Linked DNA regions of Homo sapiens: regions 1, 3 and 4 are each linked to region 2. The links come from fine-mapping of genetic effects on gene expression. A gene starts in region 2. Each other region holds a variant in brackets. All regions are shown on one strand. Distances are between the middles of the regions. Region 1 overlaps RASA3 (RAS p21 protein activator 3). Region 2 holds the start of SWINGN (SWI/SNF complex interacting GAS6 enhancer non-coding RNA). Region 3 holds the start of RASA3 (RAS p21 protein activator 3). Region 4 overlaps C13orf46 (chromosome 13 open reading frame 46).

Evidence for each region.
Region 1: its variant is fine-mapped to the expression of SWINGN in whole blood (TOPMed, PIP 0.94).
Region 3: its variant is fine-mapped to the expression of SWINGN in blood mononuclear cells (TOPMed, PIP 0.97).
Region 4: its variant is fine-mapped to the expression of SWINGN in whole blood (TOPMed, PIP 0.99).

What each region holds. Positions count from the first base shown.
Region 1 is chr13:113,974,876-113,982,974 of GRCh38, forward strand. RASA3 (RAS p21 protein activator 3) reads right to left here. Exons shown (of 24, transcript NM_007368.4): 23 at 6,800-6,983; 24 at 2,908-4,547. The coding sequence ends at 4,472. Among named protein-coding and RNA genes, the nearest start is that of C13orf46, 4.8 kb to the left of the region's middle. RefSeq lists an enhancer at 4,013-4,513. The variant G/A (reference allele first, on the strand shown) is at 3,398.
Region 2 is chr13:113,924,327-113,932,425 of GRCh38, forward strand. It overlaps SWINGN (SWI/SNF complex interacting GAS6 enhancer non-coding RNA), which reads right to left and starts at 4,665. Exons shown (of 1, transcript NR_047495.1): 1 at 2,188-4,665. It also overlaps a transcript of C13orf46 not described here. RefSeq lists an enhancer at 6,611-6,680.
Region 3 is chr13:114,129,686-114,137,784 of GRCh38, forward strand. It overlaps RASA3 (RAS p21 protein activator 3), which reads right to left and starts at 2,938. Exons shown (of 24, transcript NM_007368.4): 1 at 2,750-2,938. The coding sequence starts at 2,804. It overlaps LOC107987192 (a long non-coding RNA gene), which reads right to left and starts at 1,318. Exons shown (of 2, transcript XR_001750050.2): 1 at 1-1,318. RefSeq lists enhancers at 146-775, 814-1,073, 1,364-1,863, 2,034-2,661, 4,950-5,129 and 1 more and silencers at 2,454-3,113, 3,144-3,243. The variant A/G (reference allele first, on the strand shown) is at 4,296.
Region 4 is chr13:113,946,347-113,954,445 of GRCh38, forward strand. C13orf46 (chromosome 13 open reading frame 46) reads right to left here. Exons shown (of 7, transcript NM_001365455.2): 7 at 7,359-8,099. Among named protein-coding and RNA genes, the nearest start is that of SWINGN, 21 kb to the left of the region's middle. The variant C/G (reference allele first, on the strand shown) is at 3,409.

The DNA.
Region 1 (8,099 bases), 51 kb after region 2:
CCGAGGCCTCTCTCCTTGGCGCGAAGATGACGTATTCCGTGTCCTCACGTGGTGGTCCTGTGTGCTGCGTCCTCGTCTCCCCTTCTCATGAGGACGCTGGTCACACTGGGTCAGGGCCTCGCTTTACCTTGACAATCTCTACAGCTCCACGCCCAAGTGCAGCCACACCCTGAGGTCCTGAGGGTCACAGGGTCACAGCTCCAGCATGAGGATTTGCCGGGACAGAGTTCAGCCTGTACTGAGCCGAACAGAAAATCCCCGGCACGCTGTCTCCTCCAGCCTCCAGACCACGGTGGGTGGGGAGGCAACATTTTACCTCTTGGGGTTTTTTGGTCGGGCCTGATAATTAAAATCAGCAGATGAGCTGGAGAAAGGCACACGCACTCCAGCACGGTCTGTGTGGCCGGGAATGGCCTTTCCTTCCTGAAAGAGGAGGTAACACCCCACGGGGAAGACGCTCTCCAGAGCCAGAAGAAAGCAGCGTTCTTATCCTTGTGGATGGCTGTTTCAGCTCAAAACAACCCTTACAACAGTGTGGCTTATTTGGGCAGCCCCTTCTGCCCCTTGACAGGCACCTCGCGAGCCGGCGCACCCCCCCGCCCCCAGGACCCGCTTCCCGCACCCGGGGCTCCTCAGCCAGGGGGAAGCAGGTGTGACCCCCAGGCTGCAGGCTCCCCTCCTTCTGATCTCTTCTTTTGAAGAGCCCACAGCCTCTCAGCACCCAGGAGGCCTCAGCTCTCTGGGCAAGTGGTGGGTGCAGGGTGGGGGCCTTGGCCTCACACACGCTCTGGCACTGCCTGGCCTCCTGGGACGGTTCCTCAGAGGCACCTGCTTTGGACACTCTGATGTCGGGAGCCCCGCGGATGCTGCCAGGATGGGAGAGGAGGCCGCTGTCTCTCTCCAACAAGTGCTGGGTCGTCTGGAGCAACAAGGGCAAATGGGCGTCACTGGGGTCTCCACAAAGCCACCTGCAGTCTCTTGGTGGGTGTATTAGACAGTTTCCATGCTGCTGATAAAGACATACCTGAGACTGGGTAATTTATAAAGAAGAGGTTGAATGGATTCAGTTCCACATGGCTGGGGAGGCCCTGCGATCATGGTGGAAGGTGAAAGGCACGTCTTACATGGCAGCAGCAGGAGAGAATGAGACCAAGCAAAAGGAGAAACCCTCATAAAACTTTCACATCGGATCTCGTGGGACTTATACCACGAGAACAGTATGGGGGAACCGCCCCATGATTCAATCACCTCCCACCAAGTCCCACCCACCACACAGATTCAATCACCTCCCACCGGGTCCCGCCCACCACACAGATTCAATCACCTCCCACTGGGTCCCGCCCACCACACAGATTCAATCACCTCCCACCGGGTCCCGCCCACCACACAGATTCAATCACCTCCCACCGGGTCCCGCCCACCACACAGATTCAATCACCTCCCACCGGGTCCCGCCCACAACACAGATTCAATCACCTCCCACCACACAGATTCAATCACCTCCCACCACACAGATTCAATCACCTCCCACCACACAGATTCAATCACCTCCCACCGGGTCCCGCCCACCACACAGATTCAATCACCTCCCACCGGGTCCCGCCCACAACACAGATTCAATCACCTCCCACCACATAGATTCAATCACCTCCCACCACACAGATTCAATCACCTCCCACTGGGTCCCACCCACCACACATGGGAATTATGGGAGCTGCAACTGAAGATGAGGTTTGGGTGGGGACACAGCCAAACCATATCAGTGGAGACGCGCAGGGGCTTCCGGCCCCCATACACTCCCACCTCCCACTGCCCTGTAGGACTCTCCTGGCTGTTCCAGAAGGGGCTTCCATTCTCCACGTTCCCTGGGGCCTCGTCCTCCTTGCCCTTCTACTTCCTCTTGGAGGGGCTGACCTTGGCCCTCCTGGGCTGACCCCAGCACAGCTGTGCCCAGAGTGTGAACGGAGCCCCCTGGCTCCCGACACTGCCTGAGGCCCTGCCGGGAAGTGTGGCTCCAGGAGGACGGGCTGGCCTCCCGGGGAGGATGCCCCCACCTGCAAGGGTTTGTCCACCACCCATAGCCACTCCTGGACTGGGGCAGACCCCACACCTCAGCATGGACTAAGGAGGCCGGCCAGGCTGAACCAAGCCTCACCCTTCCCTGGGAGAAAGGCCTGGGTTGGTGTCCCCAAAGCCACACCTCCTCATTTTTCTCATACCAGAGCTGACTCACAATAGAATTACCAAAAAAGAGGAATTCAAATGGAGCAAGGAAAGGAATAAAGAAATGAGGCAACGTATCATGGAGTCTTCACCCAGAGCCCCCCTTAACCCTCTCCTGCCTGGAGGGACAGCAGCCACCTGCCTAGAGGCGCAGTCCGTTCTCTTCTCCCAGGGCCTCCAAGTGGCCTCCCCCTCTGCATTCCTGGAGATGGCAGCACGTGGTGGTCTGTCTGCCCAGCACTCCTTGAGTGGACACACCTTTCCTGAGGTTATCACAGGGCCGGACTCTCACCTGAGGCACCACAGGTGAATGCCACTGTCAGAGCAGCGCTGCCCATCACCAAAGATGTCAACTGTCACCAGTGATGTCACCTGTCATCAGGGCGGTGCCACCTGTCAGAGCAGCGCTGCCCGTCATGAGGCGTCAACTGTCACCAGCGATGTCACCTGTCACCTGTCAGAGCAGCGCTGCCTGTCACCAGAGATGTCACTTGGCATCAGCAATGTGACCTGTCATCAGGGCAGTGCCACCTGTCAGAGCAGCATCACCCATCACCAGGGACGTCACTTGGCATCAGCAATGTCATCCTGCTCCCCAGGTGCCACCCTCCTCCCTGTACCCCCCACCCCTAATGCCCACATGTGCAATTCCCAGTGGGTACCACTGGAAAACCAAGGCAGTCCTCAGAAAGAATAAAACATCTGTTTTAATTGGCCAGTAAAATACATTGCAAATCATTAGTATTTTATAAACAGAAACATTAAGTTATAAATCCATGTTAAAAATTGCAGCTCAGTGCAGCCCCAACAGCTGTGTGTCCAAAAGTCTATTTTTACAACATTTTCCTCCAGTATTTTTGTGACAAGAAAGTTCCTATCTGCCATCTAGATCAAGAGCCTGAACTACAGTATTTTCAAACAAGAACCGGGAGAAGTCGGTACAAGGATACGTCGTGCTGTGTATTTAAACGGCGCTTCCCACACACCTGCCGTCTGCATCCCGGGAGGACGCCCTTTGGGAAAGGCCTCCTCGGCAGTGTGAGGTCTGGAGGGGTCTGCCTGGACCCCATTTTTAGGATGCTCCCCTCCCCAATAAAACAGCAGCCCCCGCCCCTGCCCTGCACAGCATCTGGGGGTTCATAACACAGGTGCAATACTGACCATGGGCCCTGGA[G/A]GGACGTCTGCACCCCGAAGCCCCTGTACCTCAAACTCAGAGTTTCTTCCCTTCTTTGATTTTCTGGAGGACCTGCAGCTGGCCTTCCTGAGACAGGCTCCATTCCTGTTCCATTTGCCTTCCCGGCAGCCTTCCCTTTAGTGGGTATAGGTTTTGACGTTCTGAGTTACTTTGTATCAAAGAGCTAATTAAAAATGGTCCTTCAAAAACATAAAGAAAAACAGCTTGAAAAATGTACATTTCTATTTTTAAAATCTTCAAACTTCCACGGGGGGTGGCAAATGTTAATTCTGATTTTAAACCCCATTCAACAGCAAAACGATGTGGGCTTCAACTGTGGGCTCCGCAGACGCCTGGAGAAGCTGGAGCCCACACCTTTCCCTCCAAGGGACTCTGTGGACAGAACCCGTATCCCCCAAGCACCAAGGACATCCTCAGACTGGGACTTCTGTGTAATTCTGCACCTCCCAGCCATAAAACTGACCCCTCAGCCAGGAATCAAACGAACCTCGAAAGTGGAACAGGGAGGCCGCCTCCCATGGCTGCCTGGATGGCAGGCACAGTGGGAGAGTAATGCTCTGAACCTCCCAATGTGATGAAGCCGAAAGCCGAGGCGGGGCCAGCAGGCCTCCCGGGCACAGAGCCACAGAGCCCAGCGTCACACGCACCGTGCACGCAAGACAGACGTGCACGAGACTGACGCACACACGGCCGGAGGTGCATGTCACAGTCGACTAGACGGGCCGTGGCTCCCTGAGGCTGGCTGTGGTGTGGCTAGGGCACAGCCCACACTTCCTGATCCTTCAGCTGATCCCCAGATCCCCACAAACAAGGAGCAAAAAGCACAGAATCAAATGACGACACGTTCCACAGGGCCAGGTGGGCTTTCTGCGGAGGGCGTGGCGGTGGTGGCAGCGGTTCTGGGAGAGGGAAACCCCAGCGCCACTTGTCTATGGGCCGGGACGGCGTGCATCTCACTTTGCCGGCTCTGCGCTCTTCCTTCTCTTCTCCCTCCCAAAGGCTGCGGCTTTGCATGGGCAGCTTGCTGGCGCCACTGGGCGCGTCCCGCAGACTTTAAATGGAATGAGTGGAGGTCTCGGACTGCTGCCGGATGTAGTTCTGGAAGCTCTTGTCTCCGATGGGGTGCTCCCTGAAAAGGGGGATGGGAGAGGGAATGAGGCACAGACCCCGTTGCCTGGTGCTCACCCGTGGCTGCGGGAGCTTTTCCTGTTCCTAAATGTGACACACTCACACTGCAATCCACACAAAAAATAGAGGAGCCAAAGGAACCACAGTGCCCCCGGAAGCACCCACGGTGACTCTGATGTGTGTGCACAGGTGGGTCAGGCGTGCAAGTACATGTGCACGTGTGCTCTCCCTGTGGCACGTGTGTAGCGCATATACATGTGCAGATGTGGAATATGTAGAGTGTATGGCACGTGTGCAGAATGTGCACATCTGCACTGCAAAGAGTGTGCTCATGTGTGGGGAGCATGAGCTCCAGGGACACAGATCTGTCCCAGTGCTGGGACACTCAGCAGGCGTGGGCACCTCCTCCCCACATGCACACCTCCCTCATACCATGTGTGTGCACCTCCTGCCATGTGTGTCCACTACCTCCATGTGTGTGCACCTCCTCCTACGTGCCTACCACCTCCATGTGTGCATCTCCTCCCACGTGTGTGCACCTCCTTCCACGTGTACCTCCTCCCATGTGTGTGCACCCCTCCGTGTGTACACCTCCCACGTGTGCACCTGTGTGTGCACCTCTGTGTGCCTCCTGTGTGCACCTCCTCCCATGTGTGTGCACCACCTCCCACGTGTGTGCACCCCTCTCGCATGTGTGCACCTCCTCTGTGTGTACCTCCTGCCACGTGTGTGCACACCTCCTCCCACGTGTGTGCACCTCCTCCCACGTGTGTGCACCACCTCCTCCCATGTGTGTGCACCTCCTGCTGTGTGCGCCTCCTCCATGTGTGCCTTCTCCCACATGTGCGCACCTCCTCCCACGTGTGCACCTTCTGCCATGTATGTGCACCTCCTCCGTCTGTGCCTTCTCCCACATGTGTGCACCTCCTGCCATGTGTGTGCGCCTCCTCCGTGTGTGTGCCTCCTCCCACGTGTGCACCACCTCCTCCCACGTGTTCACCTCCTCCGTGTGTGCACCTCCTGCCATGTGTGTGCACCTCCACCCATGTGTGTGCACCTCCTGCCATGTGTGTGCATCTTGTACCATGTGTGCCTCGTGTGCGCCTTCTACTACAACAAACAGCATCATGCTTCGCGCATTTTCAACCTGCTGGCTTTTGGCCATGAGGTTGATGGACCTGCTGATATCAACGAGGCAACATATTTGGAAGGCAAATGGGGCTGTCTCCCCAGAAGGGTGTCGAGAGGGATCTGATATGATGATGTCAGAGGTGAAGTCACAGCACTCAGGAGGTGTTGCAGGCTCAGTCCCCTGAGCAACTCGGTCCAAGTCCGGGCCACAGGGACCTGTCACTCTCCTGGAGCCTCACCACTGCCCTTCCCAGACCAGACCCGCATGGTGGAAGGAAGGAGGGGTTAAGAAGGAAGGAAGGGAAGGAGGGAGAAGAAGGGTGGAGGAGGAGAGAGGGAGGATCGAAGGGAGGGAGGACCAAAGAGAGGAGTGAGCAGGAGGATGGAAGTGAGGAGGAGGCTGTACAGCTACACAGGGCTCTAGGGCTTACCCGCCCCTGAATGAGCCCGTGTGGGGGCTTCTGCCATGGTGGACCTGGGTACCCACTGGATGGAGAGAGTGACACAGACACATCTGCTCACTCCAGGCTAAGAGCCAGCCTAGCACTTTACATAGTTTAAGTCAATCTTCCAGCAACTCATGAGGGTCTTACAACCCTCTGTTCCATGGAGTGAGGGGGAGTGGAGCTTAGCTAAGCGCCACCTAGCCTGCAGCTGGTGACTAAGCTGAACGTACTCAACCTCGCCACACCTGCCTCATGAGACAAGAGTGGGTTTCGTCCAGAGCTGGCCCTGCTCCCGGGCACCATGGGTGGCCTGGAGAGATGCCAGAGGGTGTGCCACTGAACCAAGGCAGAACAAGACCTGGGCCTAGAGACTGCCAGAGCACGTGACACCAGTATAGCAGAGAGGCTGGGAGGAAGCAGGTCAGGGAGGCAGCCCGGACGCTGGCTGGGGGCCTGGAGAGCAAAGGCAGCACCTGCTCTGAAGGAGGGACCAGCAGCGCCGGGCCACGTCCACTGACTACCGCCAGGTGCCAGCCCGGTGCAAGTGGGACTCTCCTCCCAGGCGGACACCTGAGCACGGGCGGCCCCACCCGGGAGCTCCCTGCAGCCCCACCCCCACTGCAATCTCCCGCCCACTACACTGGCCGTCCAGGGCAGGCACGGGAGTGGCACTCACTGGCTTCCATATTTCGTCTTCTTGAACTTGTCCCTCTTATACTGGGCGTGCTCCTGCTCCAAAGCCCCAACCCCAGCGATGACTTGCTTTAGCGTCTTGTAGGTCTCCTGGGGGTCGTCAATGACGAACGTCGAATACTCCTCCTGCTCCGGGCCGTCATACACAGATTTGCTCCCACAGGCCTCTGTGGAGGGCGGAGGGGTCAGCGCAGGGCAGGAGCCCAGGCCACCGGCCCCGTCTCCACACAGCTGCGTCGCTGCAGGCCCCACCCACAGTACACATCCTTCCAACGCAAGCTCCTCCAGAAAGGGCTGACCACCACTCGTAAACGCAGACGGAGATAGAAACCATTCCCGCAGGTAGGCGAGTTGTGCCCACACTGAGCCCAGGGAAAGCCCATTGGGAGCTGGATGCTGAGCAACCTCATTCACCTCTGAGGGCTCTGCTGCCCCTAGCTCCCAGCCTTGTCACCAATCAGCCATTCTCACAGGGGGATGTGCACATCTCTGCACGCCCCACCAGCCCGCCCAGCCAGAACCAGGAGGAGAGACACCTGCAGCTGGACGCTGGGCTGGCTCATGGGCCCTGGGGCAGCCCTGAAGAGTCAGCTGAGGGAGTGAGCACGATGGGGTTCAGCACATTTCACACCCAGCTGCCACTGAGCATGTCCAGCCAGGACAGGCCTAGCCCAGGGCTGGCCGAGCACAGGGCGGACACCAGTCTGTGCCGCAGCTTCTAAAGACCACTGCCCCGGACCCCACCTACGCACCGGGGCCACCTTCCTAATCGGACCACATCACTCCTGCTGAAGGCCATTCTGGTGCCTCGCCCCTAGCGGACAGCCATGGAACCCTTGAGCCAGGGCAGGGCCCTGTGCCACCTGAGTCCAAACACCTGAACCAGGTACACGTCTCTGCCTCACTGCTCACAGCGCCTGGGCACGCACTCCCGGAGCCAGCACCGATGCCCTGCAGCTGTGTCCATCTGGATGGAATGAATGTTTGTGCCCCCAAATCTGTGGGTTGAAATCCTAACTCTCAAGGGATGGCATCAGGAGATGAGGCCTTTGGGAGGTGACAAGGCGTGAGGGTGGAACCCTTGTGCAGGGGATGGGCGTCCCTATAGAAGACACCAAGGAAGCTGGCTTGCCTCTTCCACATGTGAGGACACAATGAGACACTGGCGGGCTGCAGCCCAGAAGAGGACCCGCAGTTAAACCAGCACTGCTACGCCCGGATCTCAAGCTTCTCAGGCCTTCAATCTGGGAAGTGAATTCCTGCTGTCTGTAACCACCCAGCCT
Region 2 (8,099 bases):
CCAAAAACTCCCAGGGTGGTGAATTCATCCAGATGCCGGGAGGGAGGACGGTGCACTGCAACCCAGGTTGTTAGTCTCAGAATTGAATGGAATTCCAGGACATCCAGTTGGCATCCAAGGAGCTGGAAAACTGGGTGGTGTGGGAAATAAAAACCTGATAGGTTTGGGATCATGAGAGAAAGAGATACCCTTTAGCCACCTTCTCTGTTTCCTCATGAGAAAAGAAAGTCATGTTTATCTGAGGACTGTGAGTCCTTTTAAATTATCAGGCCCAAGGTGTTAAGATGAGGCAGCCGTCATGTCCTACTCCCCCCTGCCTACTCAAGCTGTGTATTCATCTCTGGAAACTGCTTGCTGTTGCCACAAGAGGCTATAAATTAATCGAACAATGCTACACTGGACACTGTAACCACACCCTATAGCTTAACAATATATAGCCCATCAATAGCTTATTTTTTTTTGAGACGGAGTCTTGCTCTGTCACCCAGGCTGCAGTGCAGTGGTGTGGTCTCAGCTTACTGCAACCTCTGCCTCCTGGATTCAAGCGAGTCTCATGCCTCAGCCTCCAGCGTAGCTGGGATTACAGGCACACGCCACCACACCAGGATAATTTTTTGTATTTTTAGTAGAGACGGGGTTTCACCATGTTGGCCAGGCTGGTCTCAAACTCCTCACCTCAAATGATCCGCCTGCCTTGGCCTCCCAAAGTGCTGGGATTACAGGTGTGACAACACTCAGCCTAGCTTATGTTATTTTAATGTAAATTCTTGGTAAACAACTTGGGACCTGCCTCTTCTCCCCAGAGTCCTGGATAACCCTCTCTGCCCTGTCTCCTTCCCACCTACCGCCCTGAAGGCTGCTTCCGCCTCTGCCCAGACTGCAGATGCTCCCAGGCTGTGTCCTCTGCCCGCCTCTTCTCTCCAGCCCTCTCTCATGGCAGTCCCACCTGACAACTCCCATGGCCTCCTGGGTGTCCTGCAAAGGCTTTGTCACTGGTGTCACTCCTCCAGGCCTCAGATAATTCCAGATACACAAGCGCTCTCCCAACAAGCCATATTCTCACCTCTGCAAAGCATTTCCAAGCATCTCCGTTTCCTCTGCATAAGCGACACGGCCCAGCCACCCGAGCCCTCGTTGCCATCCACCACTGGGCATCAGCTTCCACTCCCGTCTTTCTCGTGTCCTCTGGTCCAGCCCCTGGTGAGCTCCAGCCAAGCACCGCCTACTGGGCCTCTGGTCTTTACCTGTTCTGTTCCCTCTGCCTGGAGTTTTTTTAAGTAGAAAAATGCGAGAATGTGGAGTGGGAATGTAAAATGGTGTGGCTGCTGCAGAAAACACTTTGGTGGTTCCTGAAAAAGTTTAGGCATACACTTAGCATGGGACTCAGCATTTACCCCTTAAGCACACGCCCCATGGAAACAAAACCTGTTCCCTCGGAAACGCGCACACAGACGCTCGTAGCTACGTCCTTCGTAACAGCTGGAAGGCGGATGTTGGGAACAGGCCCCCCAAAATCTGGCCATAAACTGGCCCCAAAACTGGCCATAAACAAAATCTCTGCAGCACTGTAACATGCTCATGATGGTCATGACGCCCACGCTGGAAGGTTGTGGGTTTACCGGAATGAGGGCAAGGAACGCCTGGCCCATTCAGGGCGGAAAACCGCTTAAAGACATTCTTAATCCACAAACAATAGCGTGAGCGATCTGTGCCTTAAGGGCATGCTCCTCCTGCAGGTAACCAGCCAAACCCATCCCTTTATTTCCAGCCCATCCCTTTATTTCCCATAAAGAATGCCTTTAAATCTATAATCTATAAAAACAATGCTTATCACTGGCTTGCTGTCAATAAATATGTGGGTAAATCTCTGTTCAAGGCTCTCAGCTCTGAAGGCTGTCAGCCCCGATTTCCCACTCCACACCTCTGTATTTCTGTGTGTGTGTGTGTCTTTAATTCCTCTAGCGCCGCTGGGTTAGGGTCTCCCTGACCGAGCTGGTCTCGGCAGGCGGAGACGACCGGGTGTCCACCACAGGTGAAGGGATTAACAAATGGTGCCCGGTCCCTGGGGTGGGATATTATGCATCTGTGAACAGAAGTGAGACACTGATACACTGAGGGGACTCAGGGGCCACCACTGGGATGAGGCTTGGAAATGTGGCTTCCACCGAAAGAAGTGAGACACAAACGTTCGCACACCGCGTGATTCCTTTTATATGAAATATCCAAAACGGACAAATCCATAGAGACAGAAAGCAGATCTGTGGTTTCCAGAGGATGGGGAAGGAATGAGGAGTGATTACTTAATGGGGATGAGCTGTTGTTCTGGAGGGATGAAATGTTCTGAAACTGGAGAAGCAGAGGTTGCACAACGTCGTGAATCCAGCAAATGCCGCCGAAGTATATGCTTCAAGATGGCTGTTAAGTGAATTTCACTCCATAAAAGGTGTGTTTTAGAGGGTTATGCCCATGAGCGAGCCTACCTATACATGTGCAGTGTCACATTACTGAGACGATTCTGTTTAGAGCAAAGCCACCTACCTCCCACGTCCCTTTCCAGCCTGTCTTCTTAGCCACCTGCCTCCCACATCCTTCTCCAGCTTTGTCTCCTTGCATGCAGCCCTCTCAGGGCTTTTGAGGCCTGGAGGCCAAGGGTGCTGGGAGGTCCCACTTTGTACCCTCTCCCGAGAGCTTTGAGGGGTACCTGCCGCCTCTAGCTGTGCCTTCTCTGTGCCCTTCAACTCTGGAGTGAGGTCAGATCTTGGCTCTGGGGCCACCACCAGCTGTTTCAGGCTTGCAAAGTTCTGTCCGACAAAATACAGCTCCGCTTCCCTGTGGGGGGAAGCATTGGCCCCAACAGGCCTTCTTCACCAACGGGGACAGCAGTCCCTTGAGTGGAGCCCTGGACTCAGGGAGCTCTGGTCAGTGAAACTCTCAGCTAGGGGCTAAGGGTATGGGGACCTTCATATGTGGGACAGGCTCCTCGCTGGGGACGCTGCCACCAGGCCTGTGAGGCAGCCAGCCAAGTTCCACTTGCTGCAGCTGGGGCTGCTCTGGACGGCCAATCCAGACACCTCCCCCCTCTCCACCCTCTTTCCATCCTCAGGTTTGCATTTCTTAGGTCTGGCACTTCAACTGCAAAGTACAAGTCCTGGGCTATCTCCTCCTGCTCTGCTGAAGGCCACATCGATGCTTGGAAGGTAGGGTCAGCCCAGTCCCTTGCTCCACACACCCAACTACACTGATGGAGCGACCGTCTACACAGGGATCCTACGGTGGGGAGTGAGCCTTGCTGGCCTGATGCATGGCAGTGGTTCCTGCTCCAATAAGACCAAGAATAATTAATAACTGTGACTAAGTTAGAAGCTTTGGCTGCATCTGAATTCACCAGCGTTTCCAGCTCCTGAGGCCATGTGCGGTGTCACCTCACTCCTGGCAGACAGACTCCCACTCGGAGGATGATTTTTCATAGCCAGGGTCGCTCTGTGGACCTTGGATGGACCAACGTGCTTTCCATGTCCAACTTTGTCAAGATCCGGGGAAGATTCTCCAGCAAGTCTCTTGGAAACATGTGCATGTGGCCCCAGGCGACGTGAGGGGTGCAGTCTGCCTGCGTTATGCAATGCTCAGGCCAGTTTTCCCTGAGAGAGGAATGCTGCCGATCCTCTGCGGTAACCCACAAAACTCCACGGAGATGCTTGGAAGGAAAAGCATCGCGTCCTCCAGATGTTTTGAAATGTTCAAGTATTTAAAAGGGAAATGGAATTTCTGTTTATCCTTTTAAGTGACAATTATTCATTGCGTCTTCCTGGCCACAGCTCATTCAGCACTACTGCAGATCCGGCCAGACCCCCAGGAGCCGCGGCCCCTGCACAGCCAAGGCCAAGAAGCTCCCATCGTGGAGGGGGGCGCATTCCGGACCTGTGAGGCCCGGGGTTCGTTTTTATGCCTCCTTAAAGGGATGAGCCAGAGAAGAAAGTCTTCGCAAAGCCTTTGCCCCAGGAGGGGCGGGGCTGCGCAGGGCGCCTGTGGAGGCCGTGGCCGGGCAGGTGGGGAGGCTCACACACAGGCCAGAGGCTTCCCTGGAAACTGACGCCCTAGGGCAGGTCCAGCTCCTGGATGGTCGCAGGTGAAGAAACGCCAGGCCCAAGGGTCCTGGGAGAGAGAGGGGAACAGCGCCCAGGAAGAGGTGCAGGTTCCCAGGGACTGCAAGGGCCGCCGCCACCCTCCCACACCCCACCCTCGCTGCATCACCAGTCAGCCCAGGGCAGGCTGCTGACCCTCCCTTGGCCTCAGTTTCCTCATCTGTAAAATGGAAAAAGAAGCATGTCCACCTCACCAGTGGTCACAGTCACAGGTGCTGACATGGAGAAGGATTGATGCGTCCTCCTGAGTGCTGCCTTGTCATGCTATAAACCAGGAGGCCTGGCTCTCTGCCTCCCGGGAAGGTCTGTTTCTAATCCTGTGCTGGGTCTGCGTGGCTCCATGGCCTCAGAGGCTGACACCGAGTGTGGTGTCCCTGGGTCACCGTGCTCCTTGGTTTGGTCCAGCAGGAGAAAGGGCAGCCTGCCAAGGAGAAGGCTGTGAGCTTGGCAGGGGAGAACTTAGGCGCTGTGCCTTTGGGAGGCTGGGATTTAGATCACAGCTGGGAAGCTAAGTCCTGACTGCACTGGCCGGAACCAATGGGCTCCAGTAGCCGGATGCTCTGCCAAGTCAGGAGGTAATAACCGCCACGGCCTGGGAGAGAAGCTGGCACAGCCGTGGGCCCCTGCCCTGCGGTCTGGCCTCGCAGGTCCCCAGGCCGTGTACAGACACTGTGCGGCAGGGAAGCAGAGGCAGCCATGGGGAGCAACCCTGTTTCTCAGTGCTACATGCCTACTCTCCCTGAGCTGATGTCTGGAAGACAGTAAAGGAGACCTGAGGCAGTGCTGCCCCTCCTTCCGTCTGCCACCTCCTCAGGGCTGGCCCAGGCCCTGCAGAGCAGGTGGTGGTGGCTGCTGGTGGTAAAGCCCGTCCATCCAGAGCCTCGCTCTGCTCCCAAACCACCCACCTCCCGCTGCACATGTGGCAGCTTCAGGAGCCTGGCGGGGCTAAGAGGAGATGACAGACCCCAGCAAGGACAGGCTCAGCTTCTTGGGGACCGAGTCATTGCCTGTTGCTTCTCCTGGGGGCCTCGACTGTCCGAGTGTGTTCAGGCACACGGTGCCCTGTCTGTTTCCCAGGCACTTGGGCCAAGGCTGGACAGGGAGGTGCCATGTGGGACGAAAGCCCAGGCTGTGCAGTGCTGGTCACCGGGAGTGACCATGGGTGAAGTCGCGCTGTGAGTGACTGCCTGTTATCACTGACCACGCAGGGCCATCCTGGGTGACCCGCTGTGCCACAAGCAACTGGTTCACATTGGAGCCCCCCTCTGGAGCCCTGGGCAACCCGCTGCCAGTGGGCCTTTCTCCTGAGGCCCCTGGAGTCCCGGAGCATCCCGTGAGTTCATCTGCCATACCTGTGATTGCCATGTGGGCCCAGCGCCCTCCAATGGAAAAGCTGCATTCAGTTCTGCCCGAGGATCCCAGGCCTACGACACTGTCCTCAGGCTGCCAGGGAGCAGGAGGCTGTGGGGATCTGCGTTCTTGCCAGGCCTGGGAGCAGCAGCCAAAAAGTGGACTTACGTGGACAAAATGTTGGGCCAGGGAGGAGCCCTCGGCTCTGGACGGATGTCTCTGGTGCTTTTATGCCACGTGCATTTCTGCAGATTTGATGCCCGGCAGCCAGCACTGGGCTGTGGCCATGGTGGTGAGGCAGCCTTGGGTCTGCACGAGGCTCGGAGGCCTCCAGGAACCTCCCAGGAATGTGACTGTGCCTGGAGAGAAGCGCCATCTGCACGGCGCAGTCCAGATGCTTCTCTCCTACAAGCCCATCATCAAACACACAGCTGCCCAGACTTCAGCAGGATTTGTGCACAAGAAACGCAAAGGCACAGTCCATCGGGTGAGGCAGAGGTGGAAGGAGCACCGGGGTGGGAGTGGAGGAGCACCGAGGTGGGGGCGCAGGAGCACCGAGGCGGGGGCGCAGGAGCACCGAGGCGGGGGCGCAGGAGCACCGAGGCGGGGGCGCGGGAGCACTGAGGCTGAGCTGTCTCTAGTGATCTCTCAAGCCTCAGTGCAGTGGCCACAGGGCAAGGTGCCTCCTGGTGTGTCCTCGCCTCCAAATCAGGCTGCTCCACTTCCCAGGTCAGAGTCCTGGGGGGTTGTGTTGACCCTGAGCCCCCACGAGCATCCAATCCAGCAGAGCTGGAAGGACCCAAGAACCTGCATTCCTCATGGCTCCCATCATGCTTCCGGTCCAGGAGCCACCATCCAGACCACACTCCCATTCATCCCCTGGCCACGGAAGCTGAAGCCTTGGTTTCCCCACCTGTAAAGTGGGAGTATCAACATCACCCACATCAAAGGGCCTGGATTAGATGCGGTGATGCCCGTGGACTTTAGCAGCCCCGGTCCTCCAGGGGCCCTCCCAGGGAGCTGAGGCCCGGGTGGTCCTGGCGGCCGCTCCTTCTCCAGGCCGAAGACAGGAAGGTCTCTTGGGCTGACCTCAGGCAAGAGGCGGGGTGGGTCACGGCCTCCAGGGCCAGGCTGGGGCCTCCACAGAAAGCCCGTGGGTGGCGAGAGGGAGCCGGCTGGGGTGACTGAGGGTCGCTGGGTAGATGAGGGAGGGACCCGGGGTTCTTGTGTTCACGTGTGTATTTGCCCCGTGTTTCTGCTGACATGCCACGTGTGCAACAAACAGGCTTGGCGAGCCATCCCCACCACCCAGGCCGAGACGCCAGACGTGACTGGCACCCCAGGGTTCCCTCCCGGCCCCCAGAGGTAACCCCAATGCTGGTTTACCACAGATGACTCATTCTGCCTGTTTTAGGGTTTTGAGTAAATGAAACCCAACAGCGTGCAGTCTTTTTGCCTGGCTTCCCTTTAACCACGTCTGAGAGGCTCACTTTGCGGTTGCTTCTGTGGCTCCTGGACAGTTTCCCTTGTGCGGACACAACTCAGTGAGAGCACCCCTTCTTCCATTTGTAGACTTTCCAAATAGTCCAGGCGAGAGAGGCTCAGGTCTTGAGTTCAGGGAGGGGCAATGCACAAGCAGACGCCAAGTGGAAGGGAGTACACCCCTCCCTTGGCGGGGAGGCCCTCGGGCTGGTGGGGATGAGCGCCCCTCAGACGGCACCTGCGGGTGACAGGGTGTGACATTCTGCTGTTTCTCGGAAGTAACTCGCAAGCAGCATGGGGGTTCCTAGTGTGTTTCACAGACTCTCACCAAATGTTAGGGTTCACTCCTTGTCCTACAGCTTAAATACACCAAAAGTGAGAAAATTACGAGATAACATTTCCCTCAGAGACCCATATTCTGTGTTAAAGAATTCTTCCTTCTACCTAAATCCATCTCTTTACGGTCAGATGTCATTGGTTGTGGTATTTTGTCCATTTTCAGCTTTGTTTAGATTTTTTTGACATGCAATTAAATGCCCATATTTAAGACGTACGGTTTGATAAGTTTTGACATTCTGCTGCACCCACAGAGCCATGACCACAATCGAGACCATGGACATCCCCTCCCCCAGGCTGGCCCCTGCCCCGTCCCTCCACCCTCCTGCTCCTCTGATGACACTGACCTTTCTGTCACTGTAGATTAATTCATTTCTGTCCTGGGTAACACAGCGTGTATACTCTTATTGCCTGACATTGTCTCACAGTGTAATTATTTTGAGATTCATCCAACAATTCATCCTTTCAATGCTGGGGAGCACTAGTTGCATGGGTGTATCATAATTGGTTCATCCACTGACCCGTGGAGGACGTTCAGGTTGTTTTGGATTTTGGTGATTACAGGCAAGGTTGTTGTGAACGTTTACGACACAGTCTTTCTGTGGACGTTCCCAGAACAGACATGTCTGGGTCACATGGTGACTCTGTGTAGCTTTTTAAGAAATGGCCGAACCGTTCCCTGTGGTTCTTGTGTTATGATCCTGCCAACATGCTGCGCGCTCCAGTTGCCCCACATCCTCGCCAGCCCTTGGCAGGGCCACTTTTGAACATGTTAGCCATGCTGGTGGG
Region 3 (8,099 bases), 210 kb after region 2:
AGGGTGTTAACTTAACCCTGAACAACACTGCCTTGTACGTTCCCACCGGATGTAGTAGACAATAATTGCCTGGCTTTTGCAAACGGAAAAATGAGGTTATGAAGGGGAAGACACGGGCCCTGGGTCATGCAGCAAGTCACTGGCAGACTCATGGGCAAATCCAGCGCTCCTGGAGACAAGGCTCAGAGGTGAATGACAGCGAGGGGCCCTCAAATCAACCACAGGGGCACCATCTTGTCTGAGCCTTCAAGACCAGGGACTCAGGCAGGGCAAGTCAGAGCCAAGGTTGGCCATGAATGTGGATTAAAGAAAGAGCCTGAGGGGCTCAGTGGCCCCCTGGCACCAGCGCCGCTCAGGGTCATCCTCCACTTCGCTTCTACAGATGGGCTTTCTGCTGGAGCCCCGGGGTATCAGGCCAGCAGCACAGTTACATGAGACTAACCCCAAACCAGCGCACCCACAGGTCACCCTCAGGGTCTCCAGCCCAGACTGCATCTCTGCTCAAATGCAGGAGGTGCCCTGTCTCCCCAGCTACTTGGGGCACAGATACCCCTCAGGCAGCCAGCCCTGCAGGTGACCTCTGGAGGGGAGAGGAAACGGGGACTTCTTGCTGGAGCCACATCCAGAGAGTCGGGCAGCTGGCATTTGGGCCTCTCTACCCGTCCTCACTGCTGCTGCCCCTGGGAGGGTCAAAGGTTCAGATGATATCCAGGCCCCACGTGGGATTAGCAGCCTAAGCCTCAGCTGAGCCAGGGTTTCACTGGCTTGTTTAAAGTGGAGCACAGAGCCTGACCAAGTTGTGGCATCTCCAAACCTCCTTCTCTCCGAGGGATCCTCCAGGGTGCCTGACCCCCACGCCTGTCGGAAGTGGGGCCGAGTGCCCGCAGGCCGGTGAAGCTGCCTTCTGGGAGACTCAGGGTCTGAGTATCTGGTCTGAGACTCTGGTCTTCCCTCGCCCTCCTGTTCTACTTCCCATGCCTTCTGTAAAGTCCTGCCGTGGCCTGAAGTGTAGCCCTTCCTGGAGTACACAGCGAGCATGCTGTGCCGGCTGTGGGCCCCCCACCCCCGAGCCGCAAAGCCCCAGGCCGCCTCTGCCTGCTGCCTGGAGACCTGGCACTGCCCCACAGGGGCACCCACCTCCAGCCCTCCTGCCCCCGTGACTGAGGAAGCCCAGTGCTTCTCACACTCCTCAGACTCGCTGGCTGAGCCAAGCAGCCTTGGCTGAAGGAAAGAGCAGCAAACTGACCCCCACGGGCCGCGACCTTTCCCCACCCAGGCAAGGCGACCTCAGGCACTTCAGGGAGCGCCAGCTCTGGCTTTCTTGTATGAAAGTGACAGCGGATTTAAACCACATTAACAAAAGAAATCCCTCCTCTCTGGACTACTCAAAGCGGAAGTGCTGCCACATCCTAGCTGCAGCGCTTCTGGGCCAAATATCAAGACAGTGTCTCAGCGATGATCCGCAAACCAAAATAAAGCCGACAGGAAACAGCCCGCTGGTTTAGGGGAGCTGGAATGCCTCCGGCAGCATCAAATGTCATCAACAACTGACACTCAGCCCGTTCCCGGAGGCCTCTTCACACGGGAAGAGGCCGGCTGCGAAGTGCGGCTCAGTGGGGGAGAAGGACCGTGGGGACCGCGACACTGCAGGCCCTGGAAGCCTCTCCAGCCTGAACCGCGCTGTGGTCCAGCACACTCATGGCATGAATATGGAACAGTCACTCCAGGAAACGGTCTTGCTCTGGGGGAGGGGGAGGACTTCCACATCACTCTCCCAAGATAAAACAACCAGGGAAAAGCAGATCCCTCCAGATAAACCAGAAGTCCAGACACAGCCTCCTCTCCGGAAACGCCTCCGGGAGCCCACTTCAGAAGCTGCTGAAGCCCAGAGAAAAACCGCAGCCTCGCAGGCCCTGGTCGCCACCAGCTCGCCCGCCACTTCTCAGTGGAAAGGGACGTGGTGCCGATGGGTCCGGGGTCTCCCCGCCCCGCGGGAGCCCTCAGCCAGAACGCCCCACCAGCACACACGCACACATGCACACACACAAACGCGCGCACACACACGCGCCCACACACAAATACACACGCGCGCACACATGCATCCACACACAAATACGCACCCACACATGCACCCACAAACGCACGCGCACACACACCGCCCACACATGGACACACAAACACAAGCACACACAAACACGCGCGCACGCAGGCACAGACGCGCGCGCACAGCAGCAGCAGCGCGCCGGGGCCTCACGCCCCTGGGGAGAAGCGTGAAGGAGCCTCCACATTCCCCGGAAAGGAAGTTTCTGGGCGCAGCGGAGAAAGGGAGATGCCGAGACCCCGACGTCAGTGGATTTGACACCTGAAGTGCAGGCGCCCAGACAGCCTCAGGCGCGCGCACTCCTGCAAACACGCGGGGCACACGCTCGGGCGCACACGCGGACAGACGTCCCTCGGCGCAGGGACCCCACCTCCTCCGCCGCTACCAGGGACCGGGGCCGCTCCGGGCGCAGAGGAGGCGCAGGGAGCCGCGTTACCCCGGAGCCGACTCGACCCAGCCCGAGGCCCGGGGAGGCGGGGAGGTGGGGAGGGGCCGCGGAGCCGGACCAGCCGTTCTCCGGGGAGCGCGCCGCGCCTGGAGGGCGTCTCCGCCGGGGTCCCCAGCAAGGATCTGCGGAGGGGAGGCGGGCGCGGGAGAGGACAGGGTCGGGCCGGGGGGTCGGACGCGTGGCTGCCGGCGGACACTCACCGATCTTGATCTTCACGCTCTGGAAGACCCGGAGCCCCTCGTCCTCCACCGCCATGCTGCGCGTCCGCGCCCGCCGAGCCTCGCCCCAAGCGCGCGCCGAGCCCGGGCAGCTCAGGCCGAGCAGGAGGAGCGGCGGCGCCGGAGCCCCGAGCGCGGCCGAGGGTCCGCCCGCCTGCAAGACCGCCAGTTGGCCGAGGGCGAGGGCGGGGACCGGGAGGCTCCGCCCGCGGCCCGGCCCCTGCTCCCAACTGGCCCGGGCCCTGCAGGGGCGGGGTTGGCAGGGACGGCGCTGGCGGGTGGCGGAGACCCGGGGGGCGCAGGGATCGGCTTCCCCCGAGGCCTCGGCCCCCGCCCCCGCCCCGCGGATTGGCCGCTGAGCGGAAGGGACCCCAGCGGGCTGCCTGGCGGAAGAGACGAAGGAAGGTCGCCGGCGCGGCCCGGGCCCGCTGAGCGAGGCTGAGCGATTGACTCGCGGACGAACTTTGCCAAGAGAAGTTCACGTACAACGATCTGGCAGGGGAGGAATCCCGCGCCCAGCCCCAGCTCCTGAGATGCGATCCGAAGGCACCTGCTGCAGACGCACGAGGGGGGCGGGGACACATACACGCACACACAGCCCCCCACCCCAGACCTCCGGCATGGGCAGGTCCCCCCCCCAAGTCCCCCTGCAGACCCCAGCATGGGCAGGTCTCCCCCCCCCCAGTCCCCCTGCAGACCCCGGCATGGGCAGGTCTCCCCCCCCCAGTCCCCCTGCAGACCCCGGCATGGGCAGGTCTCCCCCCCCAGTCCCCCTGCAGACCCCGGCATGGGCAGGTCCCCCCCAGTCCCCCTGCAGACCCCGGCATGGGCAGGTCCCCCCCCAGTCCCCCTGCAGACCCCGGCACGGGCAGGTCCCCCCCCAGTCCCCCTGCAGACCCCGGCACCGGCAGGTCTCCCCCACCCAGTCCCCCTGCAGACCCCAGCATGAGCAGGTCCCCCCCCAGTCCCCCTGCAGACCCCAGCATGAGCAGGTCCCCCCCCCAAGTCCCCCTGCAGACCCCAGCATGGGCAGGTCCCCCCCCAGTCCCCTGCAGACCCCGGCATGGGCAGGTCCCCCCCCAGTCCCCCTGCAGACCCCGGCATGGGCAGGTCCCCCCCCCAAGTCCCCCTGCAGACCCCGGCATGGGCAGGTCCCCCCCCAGTTCCCCTGCAGACCCCGGCATGGGCAGGTCCCCCCCCAGTCCCCCTGCAGACCCCGGCATGAGCAGGTCCCCCCCCAGTCCCCCTGCAGACCCCGGCATGAGCAGGTCCCCCCCCCAAGTCCCCCTGCAGACCCCGGCATGGGCAGGTCCCCCCCCAAGTCCCCTTGCAGACCCCAGCATGGGCAGGTCCCCCCCCAAGTCCCCCTGCAGACCCCGGCATGGGCAGGTCCCCCCCCAGTCCCCCTGCAGACCCCAGCATGGGCAGGTACCACCCTTACCTCCCTTTCTTCTGTCTCGAGGTCTCCTCCTCCCTGACCTCCTCTCTGAGGAGTATGTTTGTGTGTGTGTATGAACTGTAGGTGTGT[A/G]TATGAACTGAGACTACACTCCCTCCTCTATGTTGCAAAACTTCATTGCACCCAGTGCCACACACACACCCTACACATATATACACACATACATATACCACACATACACTACATATACATATACATACACATAGACACCACACACAGACACCACACACATACTACACACGTGTACACACATACATATACACACATATACACACACCCTACATACACACACCACATATACACATGAACACATATGTTCATATACACACAACACAGACAGCACACACATATACTACCCATACACATGCACAGACATACACACTAAACATACATACACACACCTACGTGAACATACACAAACACACACACACTGCATGGAGAGGAACAGGAGCTTCATGAAGATAGAGGCCTATTTTTTTCCACTGCTTACCTTCACTTCCTAAAAAGCAGTTCCATGCGTTGAAAGAATGAATGGCCTTTCTTCCCCTGACTGCTGGGAGCCTGCAGCCACAGGGGCCTCTCTCATCCTCAGCCCTTGCAAGCCTGGTGCTCACTGGGGCAGAACAGGAGGTTAAGGCGGCACCCCTGGTTCCAACCCAGAGCCTCTGCGTCTAGCGCTGGCCCTGGGTGGCGTCTGCAGTGGGTGCTGTGGACGCCATCCACACCCCTGCTTTACGACGGAGACTATGCTTCCGTTTGGAGCCACTGGAAGCAAGCCGGCTCCTGTGTTTCTCCGAGGACCAGTGGAGTCCTCTGTGGCAGCCCAGCCACAAAGCTGCTTCTCTGCCATCCCTCCACCCTCACAGGCCTGCTGATAAACTCAACGCGGATCTCGCTTTGGTGTTTGTTTCCAGGCGACAGCTGGGGTCAGGAGTGAATCTCCAGACTGCAGCAGTGGCAGCCAGGACGGGAGCCCCTTGGAAGGAAATGCACTGGCAGCGGCAGGATCTCGGGTGCTGGAGAGTTCGGGAAAGTCACAGATACATGGACTATGGAATCAGGTGGCTCGTGTTGAGGGCAAGATAATGAAAAGATCACCACCTGAAACAAAAGGGTGGCACGCTAACGGGCCTCCTCAGTGCCACATAAGACACTCATCTCCTGTGACCAGAGGAAAACCAAAACACTGGATCAGGGCCAGGACTTAACCGTGTAGAAGGCAGAGCTCCAGAGAAGGCCAGGTGCTTGGCCTCAGAAGGTGTTGTTCCAGGTTCGGGTGCTCGGCCTCGGAAGGTGCTGTTCCAAGCTCTGGACCCTGACTGGGAAGAAGAGAGGCCCTGACTGGGAAGAAGAGAGGCTTGCGATGGGGCCATCTGAATGAATGCACTCAAAAATCTTGAATCCCAGATTCCTCTAAATCTGCTGGGCCTGAAGAGGTGTCACATTTCTGTCTGTTAAGGACAAATGCTGTTTCTGTGCTTGAAGACACTGCAGAGACCTCTGCAAGGCGACACGCCTGCCACCCACCTCCAGCTCAGCTCCTCCAGGTCAGCATCATCAAGCTGGAGAAGTGCTGAGGCTAAAAACTGAGGAAGAGACAGTCGGCCAAGGAGCTTCAGGACCAAAATGCATGCACCAGCATGAGCCAGGGGTAAATGCAGAACTAGATCCAAAGAACGTTGGATTCAGGGGAGGCAGAATGTAGAGTTAGATGTTAGAATTCATTGACATGGGCGCATTCAGTCATGATACAGGGTTTAGCCCCTGGGAGGTGCTCCGTGCTGCTAGGGTGGCGTTTTCAACTCGTAAAGTAAAGCAATGTCCCACATTAAGCAGCTGTCTGTCAGGATTGGAAAAGGCACTCCTGGGGTCCAGGCTCACTGCACCGGCTGGTGGCCCAGGCCCAGACGTCAGCAGGGCTGGAGCAGGGCTTCTCTGGTGCTCCTGCTGGCGGCTGAGGTGCACAGTCACCCTCACCTCCCGGCAAATGAGCACTCCTCTCCCAGTCATGATGGAGAAAACACGCATCTCCCTGACTCACTCCTTAACCCAGCCGCAAACTTCACTGGGTTAGCCTCGGTCCATTTCACTCCTACATCTCGAAACTGTGGTCGTCTTTACGATACCACAAGAACCTGGGGGGCGGACAGTCCCAGAGAAAAAGTTTGTGCTGCACAAATGGATGCTGGGCATGACCAGAGTGCCCCACAGACGGTCGACTCAGACCCCACGTGCATCTCTCCCCAGTCGGTCCCTAAAACCCACCCTCAGTGCTTATCCAGGCACATCGGAGCAAGGTATCTGTATGTGGGGCCCCCAGCCCTCTGAGAGGCACAGGGGCTGAGCATACATCCAGGGCTCCCGCAACAAAACACAGCCCCGCAGAGCTGCCCAAGCACCGGCCTTCTCACATTTGTGTTCTAAATGAAGGATTTGGTCATTCGTTTTCTAAATTAGAAAGTTGTCTCTTAGAGCTGTGATAATATGAGCTGGGAAATAAAATACTGAGAGAAGAAAGGATCAGATGATGACCCAATAGAAAATCTCTATAATTTCTTCTTTCAATGACCTTGGTGTTACACTTTGCTCTCTTTGGATATACTCTTCTGTTCACATATCAACCCATTGACAAGTGGACATTCATTCATTTCCAAAACAGCATTATTAGATCATGTCTGAACAATCTACTTTCAAAGGATTTGAAGCCACATAAATGACCAGTACACAACGGAATAATTTTTGGAGGGTTCAAAGTAAGAACTGAAGGAAGAACGGTGGAATCAGGTATCTGAACCTGAAAGAGCCCATCCTGCCAGGTGCATCCCAAGGGGCTCACTGGGCCTGAATTCAAAATGGAGGCACGCGACCTTTTGCTCACTAGAGGTCACACGCCAGCTCTGCGTTCCCGGAAGTGCTGGAAATTTCACAGCTGTCTGTTCATGCTGCTGGAATCAACCAAGGCCAGAAAATCCCAATTTGCCCTCTGGACCAAACCAATAGACTGCTACCAGGCTCTACCAAACAGAATGAAGCAAGTCTGCCTCCCTTATCTGCATAAAGGCCAGAATGAGATCCTGGGCAGGAATTCCCTTGTGGAAGACAATCGCATGTTTCTTCTCTGGAATGCACCTTTGTTTTGTTCCAAAGGCAGCATCTCCCAGTTTGCAAACTGCTTGCTGGAATAATGTCTCTTTCCCCTTTTTTTTTTTTTTTTTGAGATGGAGTTTCGCTCTTGTTGCCCAGGCTGGAGTGCAATGGCGCAATCTCGGCGCTCACCACAACCTCCGCATCCCAGGTTCAAGCAATTCTCCTGCCTCAGCCTCCCGAGTAGCTGGGATTACAGGCATGCACCACTATGCCTGGCTAATTTTGTATTTTTAGTAGAGACAGGGTTTCTCCATGTTGAGGATGGTCTCGAACTCCTGACTTCAGGTGATCCGCCCGCCTCAGCCTCCCAAAGTACTGGGGTTACAGGCGTGAGCCACCGCGCCCGGCCTGTCTCTTTCCTTTTAAAAGAAATTTTTTTAGTGGATTTGTTGACACATGTAAGGTGAGAACAGCTGAACGTAAAGCTACACACTGAGCTTCCGGATAGCCAAGGTGAAAAGGGAAATATGGAAATATGAATCTTACACAAGTCACATTATCTGATAAAAGGAAGCATGTCAGACTTTCAGGAAAGACAGTACTTTAGCCCACAAGGCAATACAAGAAATTTTTTAGGGAATTCTTTTCAAAAGGAATATTGGACAAGTTAGGGGAGGATGTTTTTAATCTCAAATGACACTCACTACAGGGCCTAGAACATGGTAAATGCTCAATGAATGTTTGTTGAATGAATGTAGTAAAAATATAACATTAAATCATAATTCTCGC
Region 4 (8,099 bases), 22 kb after region 2:
CCAGGACCCTCGGGGGGACCAGTCCCCCTCTGTGGTGGGGCATCCTGGGAACTGAAGGGCGTCCTGCAGGCTCTGCACGCGGCACACAGGAATGCCAGCCACACACACACTTGACACACAATGCTGGCGCAGGAGGACCCAGGCCAGGAGGCTGTGTGGGTCGTCAGCCGGGTGAGGTGGTCAGCTGTGTCAGGTAGTAGCTAGGCCAGCACAAATATCCCAGTGTGCTGTGGGTGGCAGCTGCTGGTCCAGGGAGGACCCCAGGGTGAAAGGAGGGCACTGGGGTGGGAGCAGAACGGGGCCGCAGAGGACGGAGAGCCTGTCCCTGTGCCCTATGGCATCGTCAGGCCACGCTGGCTGTTGGCATCCAGGCCATTGGGTCTCCTGGGTCCTCCCCTCCACCCTGGAACAGTAGAGGGGTCCGAAGCCTGGTCTGACTGCTCGCTGGCCGAGGAGGAAACCTGCGCCCGGCAGCTCTCTGAGGGTCTCACAGTTGGGGAACAGCAAAGCCACAGCAGAGCTGGGGCTCCTGGCTGCCCTTTGGAGCCCCACAGCGGCGATAGGAGAGGAAGGCCTGGCACCCTTGGGGCCGACCGGCAGGTGCGTGGGCCGAAGGCACCCGTGGTTACTGCTGGGGCTGTCTCTTCCCTCTCTCTGGCTGTGGCCAGCACTGCAGGCCAAGATGCTCTGGGAGAGAGGGGCCAGCCACAGACCCGGGGGCTGTCGTCAGCCTGGCAGCACTACAGAAGGTGAGGTGGAGCGGGAAGCCTGAAGATTCCTGAAGGGGCCTTTGGCCCTGGAAAAGGCACATCAGAGCTGCGTGCTTGGAGGAAACGCTGTATATAAAATTTGGTTCCTCAATGCTGCTGGAATCTTCCACACCGTGGCTCCAGGACAAGCGTCGGGGCAGGTTACTTACGGGGAAGGGGGTTGGGGGAGGCTGGAGCAACTGGGAGTAAAATACTGGCTGCTGCCAGGGCAGGAGGGCGGACCAACCTCAAAGGGCCCAAAAGACCCAGAACCCGCTCCAGATGGGCAGGGCAGCCAGGAGTAGGTCACTGCTGCCGTCTGCTGTCGGAAGCAGGAGTTTCATTCTGCCCACGTGGCCTCCAAGTTCCAGCAGAAGACAGCTCCTCAGGAAGCAGGGAGCTCAGGGCCTGATGGGGCCATTAGGCCTTTTTATTTACCTGAAATGATGGCCCAAGGCTGGGTGAGGCTTCACAGATGTGAGAAGCAGCTGGCATCACAGTGGGTGGAGCGGGGAGCTGGCAGCAAGGCTTGGTTGGTTCTTGGCCCCACCTGTGCAGCTTCTGCGGCCCCGGGTGTCCATTTCCACCTCCCGAGATTCCTTGGGCCCAGGCCTGTAGTGGACACAAGCAGGTCCCGGACACACAGCCAAGCAGATGCGCAGCCATGTAGACAAGGAGCCCAGGAAGCACACAGGCTGACCCCGTGACACTTCCCCCCAGACACTCACTCAGGGGTCCACACCCACCATGGCCCATCAGCCAGGCCATTGGGAGGATGACAGCATATCCATGGGATTGGGGGTCAGCAGTGCTTTCCCGACCCCTCCTCCATGATTCTGGCCTGCCGAGCACTGACTGCCCTCTCTAGGAGCCCATGTCCAGCCAGGGTGCTGCCCCAGCGCCCATCGGGGCCATGGAGCGGGGCTCAGGCTGACCCATGAAAAGCCCACGTCCTGCCACAGGGACTCAGGGGACTTCTCATCGTTCCCAAGAGATGGTGTGGAGTTCTCAAAAACCTGCCTGAGCACACATTTATATCTGGCAATTTTTTAAAAAACTAACTACTGAGGAGTCACATAGACATGACTCAGCATGAAAGGAACCAGCCCCAGAAGAGCCCACAGCACCGGTTCAAGACCAGGCAAAACTAGCAGAAGGGACCAACGTCTGCCTGGCACCTGCCTCCTGGGACTGAAGCCCAGTGACTGGGGAGGCACAAAGAGGAAACTTCTATTTATTGTTCTTGACATCAAAAATGTTAAATTACTTATGAGTGGCTTTGACCAAAACAAGTGGTGGACATATACTCGGAAAGCTACATGAGAAAGTTAACCAGGAGGCCCTGGGCTGAGGCGGCTTCAGTGCCTGGGACCCTGTGTGAGCACACCGAAGCCCACTGGGAACTGGGCCACGAAACTGACACTGCCCAGAAACTGCCAAACCAGCCTCTCACCAGGGACTTCCTTTTAACCAGATGTCTTGTCTTTGTCCCGCTTCTGCAGACACTTAGAAAAGAGCTCCGCCCCTCAACCTCAGTGGAGCGCTGAACCTCACGCTGAACCTCACACGTTCTGGTACTGCTCAGTTCATGAATTGCTGAACGCTCCAACAGACCCCTTTGAATCTCAGTGTGCATGAGCTTATCACCTAAAACTACAAAACGCTACTGAGATAAATCGAAGGAGACCTGAATAAATTAAGAGATTTGTATTGTGGTATAATAAAAAATACATCTGGTCTTTGTCCCCTGTTCCAGGGACAGAACTCCTTAAATCTTTGGAATTTCCTGATAGGGGTGTCTGATTTCATAACAACTCTTTTTCACCACATTTGTTTACCCTAATGAGGTGACTCTTGGGGGACCCCAAGGTAGCTTTAGGGTGGGAGCTTGTTGCCAGAGGAACCAACCATGTAATTAGAGAGGAACTTCCAGCCCCCCTCACCGCCCCCACTCCTGGGAGGGGCCAGAGATTGAGTTTGTGTTCAATCACCAATGACCAATGACTTAATCAATCATACCTGTGTAATGAGGCCTAGATAAAAACTTTTGGGCATCAGGGTTGGGGAGCCCCCAGGCTGGGGAGCCCCCACGGTGCTCAGAGATCAGTGCCCACCTCCCCACTCTCTTCACTGAGCTGTTCATGGGTTTCCTTCATAATAAGCATGATTGTACGTAAAGCACTTTCCTGAGCCCTGGGAGGTGTTCTAGTGAATCTGAGGGGATGTAAAGTTCCCCAAATCTGCAGTTGTCAGGAGTGAGTGTGGGTTGCCTGGGTACCCATGTACGGCTGTCATCAGAAGTAGGGGCAGAGTCTTGTGGGACAGAGCCCTTCACCTTCAGGGTCTGTGACACTCCAGGTCGTCAGTGTCAGAAGAGTGTGTGTGACTCCCCAAAACAGGAAGGGCCTTTGAGATGAAGACGATTAAGAAGAAACAGGTCCAGGAGTGCTCTCCGGATTCCTCTTTTTGCCTAAAGCAGGGCATAGATTTACAAAGACAAAGGGCATTCTGTCCCCTCTTGCAGGGAGAACAAAGGCTAAGCCCTGAAGACAGTGTCAGGCCCTCACACCCGCAGATGCCCCGACAAGCTGTGCTCCCAGCCTCTGCCAGTCCTGTGCCTGGCCCCAAGCTGCCCACAGAGGGACCTCGGTGCTCCCAT[C/G]TGTGGAGTGGGGTCATCACTCATGTCTCAGGCACCTTGGTGCTCCCATCGCCCCCTGCCTTGGGGACCTTGGTGCTCCCATCTGTAGAGTGGGGTCATCATTCTTGCTTGAGGGACCTCAGTGCAACCATCTGTAGAGTGGGGTCCTCACTCCCTGCCTCAAAGACCTCAGTGCTCCCATCTGGAGAATACGGTCATCACCCCCACCTCGGGGACCTCAGTGCTTCCATCTGTAGAGTGGGGTCCTCGCCCCCTGCCTCGGGCACCTCGGTGCTCCCATCTGTAGAGTGGGGTCATCACTCTTGCCTGAGGGACCTCAATGCACCCATCTGTAGAGTGGGGTCATCACCCCCTGCCTCAGAGACCTCGGTGCTCCCATCTGGAGAATATGGTCATCACCCCCACCTTGGGGACCTCACTGCTCCCATCTGTAGAGTGGGGTCCTCACCCCCTGCCTTGGGAACCTCGGTGCTCCCATCTGTAGAGTGGGGTCCTCGCCCCCTGCCTCGGGCACCTCGGTGCTCCCATCTGTAGAGTGGGGTCATCACTCTTGCCTGAGGGACCTCAATGCACCCATCTGTAGAGTGGGGTCATCACCCCCTGCCTCAGAGACCTCGGTGCTCCCATCTGGAGAATATGGTCATCACCCCCACCTTGGGGACCTCACTGCTCCCATCTGTAGAGTGGGGTCCTCACCCCCTGCCTTGGGCACCTCGGTGCTCCCATCTGTAGAGTGGGGTCATCACCCCCTGCCTGCCCCTCAAGGTGTTCAGGGCCAGAAGGGCTGTGTCCTGCCTCTCCCCAGAGTGGCCTGGCTTCTGTCCCTGAGGAGTTGCTTTCACATTGCCCTTTTCAGACCTGGACACAGCATTGCAACACGGAGAGTTGACCTCCCAGCCCAGACCAGCCCAGGTGCCTCTGCCCCTGTGTGCACCAGGGCTGGCCCCGCCTCTCCTGCAGGGCCCTGGGCAGCTTTCTCCCACAGCTGGGTCTGGGGTTCAGCAGGAGCCGGCGCCCAGGGGAGACACAGGAGAGACTCCCTCCCGCTCCAGGGCACGGGAGTCCTGCCGTCTCTGGTGAACCTTGCACCCACCACAGCCTTCAGAACCAGAGCCAGAGAGAAGACCCTGTCTCCCGGCAGAGCCACCCTTCCCCGGGGCCCCGGGATGTCCGTGGCGCTGGCGAGGCTTGGGAAGGCCGGGCGTTCAGAGGAACTCGGGATGTCCACGGCTGAGGGTTTTGTGGGGTCACGTGGGAAGGACACAGGGGAATTTCCACACCATTCACAGCACAGGGTTTCCCATGGGGGCTCTCTAGGCTGAGGCCTGTGGGGCCCTCATGGGCGTGTGGTCCTGGTGTGGGGAGGCCCAGCCTCTATGAGGTGATCATCATAAGGGACGTAGTGACAGCCCCGTCCCCCTCCAGCGAATGCTCAGCTGGGGAGGAGGTATGGAAATCCTGCCTTCCTTGCTTGGATCTCGGGTGTCTGTGGTTTCCAGGACGGAAACAGGCAGCCTGAGCCCTCAGCACCGGGGCCCCCACGGGGTGGTGCTGTTGGCCAGGGAGGAAAGAAGGGCAAGGTCGTCCCTGCGGGCCGGGCTGGAGCCGGGCGGGGCCTTTGCTTGTGGGAGGCGCCCGACGTCCCTTCGTGGACTGCGTGTGGATGGAACTGCTTTGGCCTCGGCTCTGCCCGGCCACACAGTGCCAGCACCACTCCCCCCCGCCGCCACCAACAGCACTGCCCACTCGGGGGAGATCCCGGCCGGGTTTCCAGACCTCAAGACTGAAAGGCATAGAGGGGCCCAGCCAGGCCCAGGCCCCAGCGCCTGCCCCAAGGCTGCACTCGCTCCCCGCCCCCCATGCCCTGCTCCCCAAGCCTCCTCCAGGCCCCAGCGCCTGCCCCAAGGCTGCATTCATCCCCCTGCTCCTCCTCCAGGCCCCACTGTAGTCACTCACAGGCGTCGCCAGGCCATGGCGCTGCGGCCCTCCCATTTCAAAGTGGTTGCCTTTTTTGCGAAACTCCACGTAGAGATGTGCTGAACTCGACTGTCTACGACGCCCAGAGGGAACGGGGCTCCAAGAGGCTGGGGACCGGCGGCACCTGCTGCTCTGTGTTCAGCACTCCGGACAGGGCCTGGCAGGGGCCACAGTGCAACGCGACCCCACTCTCGTAAGACAACCTATGCCTCTCTCCGTATATGGCACCATCTATATGCACAGGGATTGAATACATGGTCCCGTGTGTGGGCATCTAAACCCAGACAGAGAAAACTCTGGAAAGAACACACGATTGTTCCGACAGCCCCCAAGGAACCAGAACGTTGAACTGAGACTCGCCCTTTCCCACATCACCTGCAGTGAAAACACACAGAACACTTGGCAGGGGTGGGGGTGACACGGCAGGGAAGAGGTGGCCAGTGGCACGGACACAGGTGTTTGGAGCCCGGCAGGGACACAGCCAAGGTGTAGCTGGCGTGGCTGGAGGAACTGCGCCGGCTCAGGGTCTGTGCTGCTGTGTGGCCGCCGCTCCCGCCTGCCCAGGGCCGCTGTGTGGCCACCCCTCCGCCTGCCCAGGGCCGCTGTGTGGCCGCCGCTCCCGCCTGCCCAGGGCCGCTGTGTGGCTGCCGCTCCCGCCTGCCCAGGGCCGCTGTGTGGCCGCCGCTCCCGCCTGCTCAGGGCTGGGTTCCAAGGGGGCCACCTCGGAGGTGCAGGCACCATGTGGGGCTGGGCCATCTCCCCCAGCCTGGGAGGGCTCTGACAGCCTCGCTCACTTACTGGAATCTGCACAGGTCAGGGGCCAGTGGGGACTGAGGATAAAACTGAGGCAGACTGGGCCTGGGGCAACGGGGGCCACCACCCCAGGACCACTGGCCGGCCCTAGAAAGCCCAGGCGGCATCTGTGCCCCATAGGACTGAAGGCCAAGGGCAGCGTCCTTCTAGGGGGAGCCTGGGCTTCCACCCCTCCCTGGATGTCACCACAGCTGATTTGCTGAGCTCAGGGCTGTGCATCTACAGGGGGTTCCTGCCCTGGGCCCCTGCCTGGTCCACTCCATCGACCCCAGCGCTGCTGCCTGAGCCTCTCAGCCCAACGGGCCGGGCAGCAGCAGGAACACGCTCATGCTGGGCGGGGCGGCGGGGCAGAGGCAGCCCCCGGCCTCAGCAGCATCAACCACGTGGCAGGAGCTGCTCTCGGGCTCTGCGGCGCGTAGACCTGTTTCCTCAGGGATGTCTCCTGCTCCCCACAGTCTCCAAAGCCCAGCCTCGTCCCCTCCACTAAGACGGGGCTTGGCCTCACCGCTGACCATCCTGGACGCTGACTGCCGCTGCCAGGACCCTCTGAGTTCAGCGCCCACTGAGCCCTTCCCCAGACCCCCGGCCTGGCACAAGGCAGCCCCATTCCTTGGGTGTGTGGCTGCTGAGTGCCCTGAACAGCTCGCTCGGGACCTGCCCGCTTCTCTGATGGGAGTTGGGGCCCAAGCCAGGTGGCCACTCACATCCCACAGGGCGTGTGCCTGCGCCACGGAAATCTCCCTGAGGTAGGAAGGTGTGAGCCAGGCCTGGCCGCCCTGGAGTGCCCAGAATCAAGGCTCAGAGGAGCAGCACGTGGAACTTTACCCCCCGTGGCAACAATCACCTCTCCGGGGTCCCAGGAGTCAGCCCTTCCCACCCCAGCACTGGCCCTGATCAGCTCTTCCCCCGGACACTGTGACCCCCACCCCACCAGACAGTGAAGGAGGAACAGAATTACCCTGGGTTTGAGGAAATGAGCTCAGAGCCCAACAGAAGGCAAAGGCGCGTCTGACTCTGGAAGGCTCACATTCTAACAGCTAAGCCACTGCCAAGCTCCTGTGTCTGCAGAGCCATGGGACCTCCCTGTCCTAGAGGTGGCTGCCGCCAGCATACCCAGAATGAGGCCAGCCACACGCGGCGACAGGACGAATACACGGGTGGACAGACTCATGCCGATGTTTGCTCTGTGGGGGAGGGTGCTGGGAGCCACCCGGCAGAGCTGCCGCCTCCTGCCCCACCAAGGGGACAAACCAACCGTATTTCCGGAAGCTTCTCTGGGTGCCTTTCTGGTTGGCACAGTTGGAGGCCGCAACTGAGTCACACCCAACTGCCCGGCAGCCTGTCCAGGACAGCCCGTCCAGGGCCCATTTCCGGTTGTCTGGGAAATGATGACTCTGGGGCCGATGGGCACTTATCTTCTGTGGTGTCTTTCAGTCAAGGGTGGGTGCTGGCTTTGGGGGGTCCCCTTTCTCTCTGCAGCCTGGATGGTGCCCCACTTTGATCAGAGGAAACTACCCAGTGGGACAAGCTCTGCGTGGCATGCGGCTCCCTGAAAAGGGCCCCTCCCTCCCTGGCTGAGTGATGGGCAGAGCTCACCCTCTGGGAGCCTCTGCATTATCATGTGCACCACAGGGACGGCCCCCATGTGTCTCCACGGGAATAGACAGTGCACACAGCATCTCCGCCTGTGGCCTCTGACTGCCTTAGAGACACCCGGATCAGAGATGCTGCAGGTCACCTGCCCGTGCCCTCCTGTGCACATGTGTGGTATGTACGAGCATGTATGTGCTGTGTACATATGAATATGCACGTGTGCGTGTCTGAACGAGAGGGCTCTGGGTGGATTCTGGTGAAACTCGTCTTACAGGCATGTCCTGGAGCCCCCCACACCCCTAGGAAGA